2 separate regions of the Homo sapiens genome follow, and region 2 is linked to region 1. Evidence: fine-mapped expression QTL. A gene starts in region 1. The other region holds a variant in brackets. All regions are shown on one strand. Distances are from middle to middle. Region 1 holds the start of HK2 (hexokinase 2). Region 2 overlaps HK2 (hexokinase 2).

Evidence for each region.
Region 2: its variant is fine-mapped to the expression of HK2 in fibroblasts (GTEx, PIP above 0.99).

The regions. Positions count from the first base shown.
Region 1 is chr2:74,831,631-74,836,012 of GRCh38, reverse strand. It overlaps HK2 (hexokinase 2), which reads right to left and starts at 1,886. Exons shown (of 18, transcript NM_000189.5): 1 at 1,370-1,886. The coding sequence starts at 1,432. It overlaps HK2-DT (HK2 divergent transcript), which reads left to right and starts at 2,026. Exons shown (of 1, transcript NR_185897.1): 1 at 2,026-3,358. RefSeq lists enhancers at 445-514, 292-1,168 and silencers at 745-994, 1,915-2,144, 2,325-2,394.
Region 2 is chr2:74,872,218-74,876,599 of GRCh38, reverse strand. HK2 (hexokinase 2) reads right to left here. Exons shown (of 18, transcript NM_000189.5): 4 at 4,181-4,300; 5 at 3,229-3,324; 6 at 2,657-2,756; 7 at 2,151-2,334. Among named protein-coding and RNA genes, the nearest start is that of LINC01291, 35 kb to the left of the region's middle. The variant A/G (reference allele first, on the strand shown) is at 2,273.

The DNA.
Region 1 (4,382 bases):
AAATCAACCGCCTCTGCTCGCTCCTCCAGACTTGAGGCTGGGTAACTTCTGCTTTTCTTGGAGGTTCACGCGCCATCACTACATTAATATGCCTCCTATGCCCTCGGGACCGCCAGAATGGGAATATGAGCAGGTTGTCGCACAGAACGGTAATGGCAAGACATTTTCCCAAAAATGTGTTCCCATCAGATATTGAAATTCCAAGTATGTAACTGAGCAACGCTCCGTTGCCTCACAGCTCTTAAAACAACCTCCCTCCAGCTAATCCCCTCCCAACTTGTCCCCTACCTCAAATCGTAGCCCAGGCCCGGGCCAGGAGCCAATCCCCTAATCCCGGGCATTTCAGAAACTCAATTCTGAGCGCGCCCCTGGCCCTGCCCGTCCCCGGCCCCGGCCCCATCCCCACCCCCATACCCCGAGGCGGGGAATGAGAGCTTCCCGGCTTGGCCTGAGGCTCTTTCTTATGTAAATGACCCGGCCGCGGTGAGCGCTCAGCCATAGGGAGCTGCGGAGCCAGGTGGGAACAGACAGGTCGAGGCTTAAGGAAAAAAAAGCTCGTTTTCGGAAGGACATAAATCTCAAGAATCTCAAGTAATCCAGGAACGCGGCGCGTTGGCCTCTCCGAGTAACTTTTAGGGCAAACCAGAAAGTAACAACCAAAGTCCTCCCCTTACTCAGAGGCAGATCCTGAGGACACGAGGCTGGGCGGTCCCGAGGCTGATTTGGAGGGGCGGGGGTTAATGGGGGACGCCCCTCGCCGAGCCTCAGTTCCGGGCGCCACAGTTCCGGGGAGGGGGCGCGGCGGGCGGAGTTCCTCTGCCCCTTTCCTACTCCTTCCCGGGTCAGCTTCTCCTCGAGCCCACCCCCGCAGGGCCGCGGGGAAGGAGAAGGGAACCGCTCGTCTCCTACACGCGGTCCGCGAGCGCGGACGGCCCCCGGCGGCCCCACGCGGCAGCGGAGCAGCCTCCCGCAGCCACGATTCTCTCCACGTGCTCTCGCCGGAACTCGCGCTGCAGAAGGGGGCTCCCTCCCACGTGGGCGCAGCAATCCCTGACTACCTGCGGGGTGACCCGCCCCTCCAGTAACAGGGAAAAAGGGACTGGGGGAGAGAGCGTGAGCGCGTGCCGGAGCTCAGGGAGGGAGGGCGCCCGGCGGAGCGCGACCTCGGCTCCCCGCCCGCGCGCACTCGCCGGCTGTGCTTAGCGGACGTGGCTCCTGGCGCCCAGGAGTGTCCCGGCTGCCCAAACTTTTTCCGCTCCCAGGCCCGGAGTAGGGAGGAAGCGGGTCCCCGCAGGGTCGAGGAAGAGACTGATGGAGGCCAGACCACTTTGCCAGAGCCCAGCCTGCCGCCCCGCCCGCGCTGACTTACCTTCTGCACTTGGTCATGGTTGAGCTCCGTGAAGAAGTAGGCAAGCAGATGCGAGGCAATCATCCTGCCGCGGCCCGACGGCGCAGAGTTGGGAAACCGAGGCGGAGACGCGAGAGGGGAGGCGGGCGGCGCGGTCCGACTGCTTTGTGCTGGGGCTCGGCTGCCGGGCCGGGAGCTGGGAGTCCGGACGGCGCACAAAGAAGGCTACCGGCGAGGGTGCGCCCGGCTGGCGGAGGGCGCGGGTCTCCGGAGACGTGATTTTGGCGTCACAACTGCTAGAAGGCGCCTCAGTTCTCTCCTGGCGACGTGTCCGGTTGTCCCACGTCAAGGCGCTAACTTCGGCCACAGGATCACTGAGGCTCAACTTGAGAAGAATCTCAGCCCGGCTCCACTCGGGCAGTGGGACCTCTCCGATTCACAGGCGCGTGGCTCGGGCCCGCGGATTTTCTTAGCTGGGTGACACGATGTTGCCAGCGGCAGCCCGGGACTCCTGCGCCGGAGTTTCATGCAACAATGTGGCTTATTGAGGGGCTGCCGGCCCGCGGGCCTCCGGATCAGTGACGTGCGCACGCCCATTGGCTGCGCGGGGAGGGTGTGTGCGCCCACGGACCGCCCGCCGCCGTGGCGCAGCCAATCATCGCTCACGGCTCGCGGGCGCGGCCGCTCAGACACCGGAGCCGGCAGCCTGGGGAGGCGCGCCGGGGGCGGGGGGCGGGGGAGGGGCGGGGCGCCTGAGATGGGACGTGTGGTCCGTGGCTAAAGGCTGGGACGGAAAGGCGCATGAGCCACCGCCGCGTCAGGCTCGGCTATGGGTGGGGGGAGCGTGATCGCGGACCCGGGGTGTGGGGCGACTGGAAAAACGGGCCTCTGGACCAGCACACGCCCTGTGCGGAGAGACACTGTCTGGCATCTCGGGATCATGTGAGGGGCTCCCACTGCCCAGTCACACGTCTAAAGCATCCTAGTTCTTACCTATTGTAGCACGGCCGGAAAGTGAGCCGCCTTAGCTGCTGATTGTACTAGAGCAGGCAATACAAGAGTCGGCCCATCCTCAAAACCACTGATAGGATGTGAGTTTCACTAACCCCGTTTTACAGATGAGGAAATTGAGGCAAGGCCAGGGCTCACACCTGTAATCCCAGCACTTTGGGAGTCCAAGGTTGGAGGGTTGCTTGAGACCAGGAGTTCATGACCAGCCTGGGCGACATAGTGAGACCCCCATCTTCCCAAATAAAAATAAATAAATCAGCCGGACATGGTGGCATGTGCCTGTAGTCCCTGCTGCTCAGAAGGCTAAGGTGGAAGGATAGCTTGAGCCCAGGAGTTCGAGGCTGCAGTGAGCTATGATCATACCACTGTACTCCAGCCTAGGTGACAGAGGGAGACCCTGTCTCAAAAAGAAAAGAGACTTACACGAGGTCACATAGCTAATAAGTGGCAGATAGGGAAGAGAACCCTTGTCCCTCTACTTTAAGGCCCTATTCGCTTGCCCCATTATCCCATGCTGCCTCTCTAAGAGCCAGAGAAGTAGGAGGTAGAAAAAGAGCATCTCTGCAGCTCTGGGACTGATGATGTGAATGAACTGGGTAGATGGTAAGTGTGTAACTGGGTGATCTTGGACATGGGATGGGGTGGGTGAGGAGGCTTACCAATGCTGAGAGGAGTGGAAGCTCCAACCCCAGCTAATGCTAGACACCAGACTCCAAATTTAAACACACAGTGGAAACTGGCAAGAATGAAATACTGACTTCAATACAGATTTCAAGAGACATGACATTAGCACTGGTGGAGAATGGCAAGCCTAAGGTTGGAAAAGGTTCAGGGAAGGAAGATGAAGGTCTGCCATGTTCTACTGAGGAGGAGTTTTTCAAACAGTGGGGTGCTGTCTGCAATGTGTACAGCCTTAAAATTATTATATAAGTAATCAATACTCATTGTTGAAAAATAATATATGGATAAACAGGAAAAATAAACAAAAATCATAATCCATCTAGCCTCTCAGCAAAACTTCCTTTTTTTTTTTTTTAAAGCAGGGACTCGATATGTTGCCCAGGCTGGTCTTGAACTCCTGGGCTCAAGCAGTCCTCCCACTTCAGCGTCCCAAATAGCTGGGATTACAGATGTGCTCAGCAAAACTTCTTGAGAACTATGTACCCTTCTAAATGCACGTCCTCAACCCTCCTTCCCTATACTCCACACAGAATTGAGCTCAAACTGCTTTTGTCATAGTCATCATAATGACCTACATGTTGCCAAATCTTGCATTCTCTTCTCTTCCCTGCCCTTGTCTTACTCCTTCTCTCAGGGATGTTGAGGACAGTTAATCACATCCTCCATCTGGACACACCTTCCTCTCTCAGTAAGAGCACCAGTGCTCCACTCTGAGGGTTTCTGGCTAACCTCACTCCCCAGGCTCCTGAGTCCCTGTTTGCTCTATTGGTAAATGCTGGGGTATTCGGGGCTGCCCTCCACCCTCTTCTCTGAACTAGTTACAGTTTCAAACTCCCTGAGGAGAAACTAACTTCCTAGCCCCATGACTGTTATATCATATGCATGCTGATGACTCACCATAGTAAATCTACAGCGAGGTCCTCTCCTGGAGTTGCAGGCTTATTTCTCCAGCTTGCCATTTGTCATCTCCACTGAAGTGACTAGCATATCACACTTAACATGTCCAAAGCTGAACTCAACTTTTTTTCCCAAATCTTTTTCTTTCCCAGTTGTCTCAGCAAATGGCATCGCCATCCACCCTAACTCGTCTTCGATTCCTTCTTGCCACTCACCCTCACAGCCAGTCAATCCATCAGCAAGCAGTTAATTCCACCTATAAAACAGACCGTGCATCTGACCACTTATCTCCATGCCCTTAGACACCTCCTGAGATCTTCCCACAGAATACTGCTTGGCATTCACACTAGCATGCTTTCCTCAAAAATACAAACTCTTTCTCACCCAAGGGTCTTTGCTCTTCCTTTTCCTTCTATCTAGAATATTCTTCTCCAGGCCTGTCTCC
Region 2 (4,382 bases), 41 kb before region 1:
AGCTCTAAATGACAGGTCTCAGGGGTCTGGGAGTGAAACAGGCTTCTAAGCAGGCAGGTGACAAGATGTTTTAGAAAGGCAGGGGACGGCCCCCAAACCAGCAGTGCGGTCCGGTGATTTAATTTTAACACTAGGTGGCACTGTTTTCTTTCATAATTGGTCTTTCTGACTAGAACTGAGAGGAAACCAAGCCCTGGTGATAATTCTTTTTGACAAAAGGCCCATTTCTGGGTGTTTGAGAAAGAACCTGTGTCTTAGAGGAGGCACATGGGCCTGCTGCCACTAACTAGGATGAGCCCCAGCGAGGAGGAGGCCCAGGACTGAGATGTGGAAGGGATTCCAAGGTTACCTTTCCGAGAGGAAACCCAGGCCTCCAGGAAGCAGCCTGCTCAAGACCCAAGGCCGAGTACAGCAGCATCAGGGCTAACTGAGAGCTGGCAAAATTGTGAAGATGACAGCGCGCATTTTAAATGTTAGTGCACCCACACAGGCAGAGCTTCAGGAGAAGGAAACCAGCGTGGATGGGAGCCTGGCTTCAACAGTAAGGAACTCCGTGTTGCTAAGTTTTTATTCTAGTTTTTAAAAACACTTTGTTCCAGTCAACATTTGGAAGATACTTACTTGGAAATATATTAGAGGGGACAAAAATTGTCTGTAGTGACTTCAGGGCTACCATGGATGACAATTTGGTGGGTGTCAAAGGATAAGCCGGGGGTGTGCTGTCATGGTCTGGCTGGCAAATTTGTCTTTTGACATTTGAAAGGGCCTTTAGTTCCTCGGAATGACTTGGGTGTGCCTCATTCATGGAGGCAGGCACTGAGTGACTTTTCAGCTCATAAACCTCTCATCAGCCATGGCAGACACAACCAGTATGATCCTCAGAAATTTCAAGTAAAGGACTCATTTCAACATGTGAAACAAGCTTGTGACTTAGATAAATAAACCATGCTTTGACAAAGCAAGGACTCTCAGGCCGGGCGCGGTGGCTCACGCCTGTAATCCCAGCACTTTGGGAGGCCGAGGAGGGCGGACCGCCTGAGGTCGGGAGTTCGAGACCAGTCTGGCCAGCATGGTGAAACCCTGTCTCTAATAAAAATACAAAAATTAGCTGGGCGTGGTGGCAGGCGCCTGTAATCCCAGCTACTCAGGAAGCTGAGGTAGGAGAATCGCTTGAACCCGGGAGGCAGAGATTGCGGTGAGCCAAGATTGCGCCATTGCACACCAGCCTGGGCAACAGAGAGAGACTCTGTCTCAAAAAAAAAAAAAAAAAAACGAAAGCAAGGACTCTCCTGGGTTACCCACCACTGACTTGATTTATAGGGTTCAATTTTCCTGTCCAAGTAGAGATCTGCACGAAAAGCTTTTCTACAACAGTCACAAGACCAGAGATGATCTGTATTGCTCAAAATATTTTGCAACTGCTTCAGACCTTGAAGCAATCCCTGTTTCAAGATCTTTCACACGCACATTTGGCAAATGTTTGTGAGGGTGAAATAAGGTTTTGTAAGAGATAAAAGCAACTAAAAACAAAGGCAGGCCAGGCTGGAGAATACAATATTCAGGATCCAAAATGCTAGACGCCCCTCCTCCAATCCATCCCAGGACATAGTTGGGCCAAGGTCCAAGTGAAGGAGGCCAAGGAAGCTCCTCAGCCAATGTCTCCAGGGGCCATGGGTCTGCCTGCAGCTGCAGCAGGAGGCCCTGGGACCCCAGGGAGCAGCAATGAGCAGCCAGCTGTCAGCCTGTCCTCTGGGTGGTGATGGAGTTGGAGCTATGAAAGGAGCTTTCAGAGACCCCAATCTTGGCCACCTCAACACAACTTTCCTTAGGTGGCTCACAGTTCCCATGGACAATTTACAAATAGAAGGTGGAAAGAAAGAGCAGGGCCACCCACTTACACTCAGAATAGAACCTTCCAAAATGACTCCTGTGAAGGAAACACATTATTAGCTATAATCTGGTATATCCGCTTGCTCTCTGTTTTAGATCCTCTCAGCAATTTATAGTCACAGACATTCCTATGACCAGTGGCCACCTTGGCAAGCTTTGGGGATGTAAGACTGTAAAGAAACAACCCCCTGGCCCCGACCAGCCCCAGACTCAGCTCCAGGCCCCCGCCAAGCCCACTCGCACAGGAAGGGCCTACTCACAGTTGCTTTCCCGGGTTCAGTGAGCCCATGTCAATCTCCTGGTCAAACTCAGTGCGAATGTCGTTGAGCGAGCCATCGTCCCCGAAGGCCCCCCACTCCATATTGATACACATCCGCCCCTC[A/G]TCGCCTTCCACCATGTCGATGTGGCGCATCTCTTCCATGTAGCAGGCGTTGCTGCCCGTGCCTGCCAAAACAAGGGACGGCTATGCACACGCCTGCTCCGGCCCCTTCCCACCCCTCTTCCCTCTTATACTACTGTCCCGAGACTGCCCGGCCAGGATGGCTGGGATTTCTCACTGCAGACTCTGGGGGCATCACAATACATGGTCTAATCTTCTGCCACCCCCAACTCCATGAGTCCCTGCTCGGCTCTCCAAAGTGACTGGACCATTATCTTCTAATATGAACTACAAAGGAACACCCAGCCCATGGGCCCCTTCTCCCTTTCCAGCCCACACCCCCATCCCTTGGCCAGCACGGGCCCTTCATGCACGGTGTTCACTCACCCACAATGAGACCAATCTCACAGTTGTGGTCATCATAACCACAGGTCATCATGGTCCCAACTGTGTCATTCACCACAGCCACAATGTCGATATCAAAGTCCTGTGGAGACAAATGGGAGGGCTCTGACCTTCATCATCACAGAGGGCGACTTTCCTAACACCAGCTATATATCACTCCTCCTCCTCCTCCTCCTCCTTCTCTCTCTCTCCCCCCTCCCTCCCCATAACTCCTCCTGTGATAAGACTTTTAATTCATTCTCTCTCTGAGCCATTCCACTCCCATGTCAACATCATTCCAACTTTCTTACTTGGAAATCACATTCAAGTCTTCTTCAGGTTAAGAACTAAAGAGCTTTTCTTGTGCCAAGGCTAAGATTATTTATCCATTTGATAATCTAAAAACCCCCAAAGCAGCAGATCGCATACAAAATTATTGAGTACATGTGTCAGGGAAAAGAGAACTCTCCTTAAGCTCCACGTAAGCAAACAATGATGAGTCAAGGACACTCAGGGAGTCTTCAGGGTGGACCCAGAAAAGCCCACAGACCCCAAGCTCCTGCCACCCCACTCACCCCTCTCCTCTGGATGGCCTTCCGGATCAGAGCCACAACGTCTCTGCCTTCCACTCCACTGGACTTGAATCCCTTGGTCCATGAGACCAGGAAACTCTGGAAAGGGACCAAGAAGTGAATATTGATTTCCCACTAAAACTGAAACTCACACCACACCCCTCAAACCTCCGTCATTAGCAGAGACCTCTGCCACTGGGGTAAAGTCATGATTGAATTTGTGTGTTACTTCCTGGCTAGCCTAGGAAAAAGAAACTCAGGACAACTGGCACTATAAGACACAGTCATGTGCCGCATAACAATGTTTCAGTCAGTGACAGATTGTGTATACTGCGGTGGTAACAAGATTATAATAGAGCTGAAAAGTTCCTATTGCCTAGTTAGATACACAGATATCACTGTGTTACAATTGCCTATAGCATTCAGTACAGTAACATGCTATACAGATTTGTGGCCTAGGAGTTAACAGGCTGTCCCATACAGCCTAGGTGTGTAGTAGTCTATACCATCTAGGTTTGTGTAAGTGCACTCTATGATGTTTATACATAAGTGAAATCACCTAATAAAGCATTTCTCAGAACATATCCCCATTGTTATGCAATACATGACTGTACTTGTGTCCTTACATCATTAACTCTCCAAGTATCTTTCTTCCAAGGGTCTTTATCATAACACTTTAGACTGGGGAGTTCCTGATTTCTCATTCCTGTTTCTGTGGAGGGGATAAGGATACTGTGCAATGTGTGTGGGAGAGAGGGTGATAAAGGGCACTCCCAACCCCCCAGATTTCTTCACCAGCCCCCCCATCGACATACACAGTCACCCAGAAAGGCAGAACTTCATCTCCACAATCCTCCAGTGCTACCACCACCACCACAGCAGGTGGCTCAGAAGTCCCTCTCAGCCCTCCCAGCCCCAAGAGTGAAGCAACAAGTGTCTGAGGAGCCCATCTTACCTCGTCTAGTTTAGTCTGGTGGCAGGGGAACGAGAAGGTAAAACCCAGTGGGAGCTTCTTGTCTTTGATTTGTAGCTTATCCATGAAGTTAGCCAGGCATTCGGCAATGTGGTCAAACAGCTAAGGATACATGACACAGGGTGGTGAGCAGAGAGGTCGAACAGCATAGAGATTAAGGGCATGCACTTCAGGCTCAGCACGT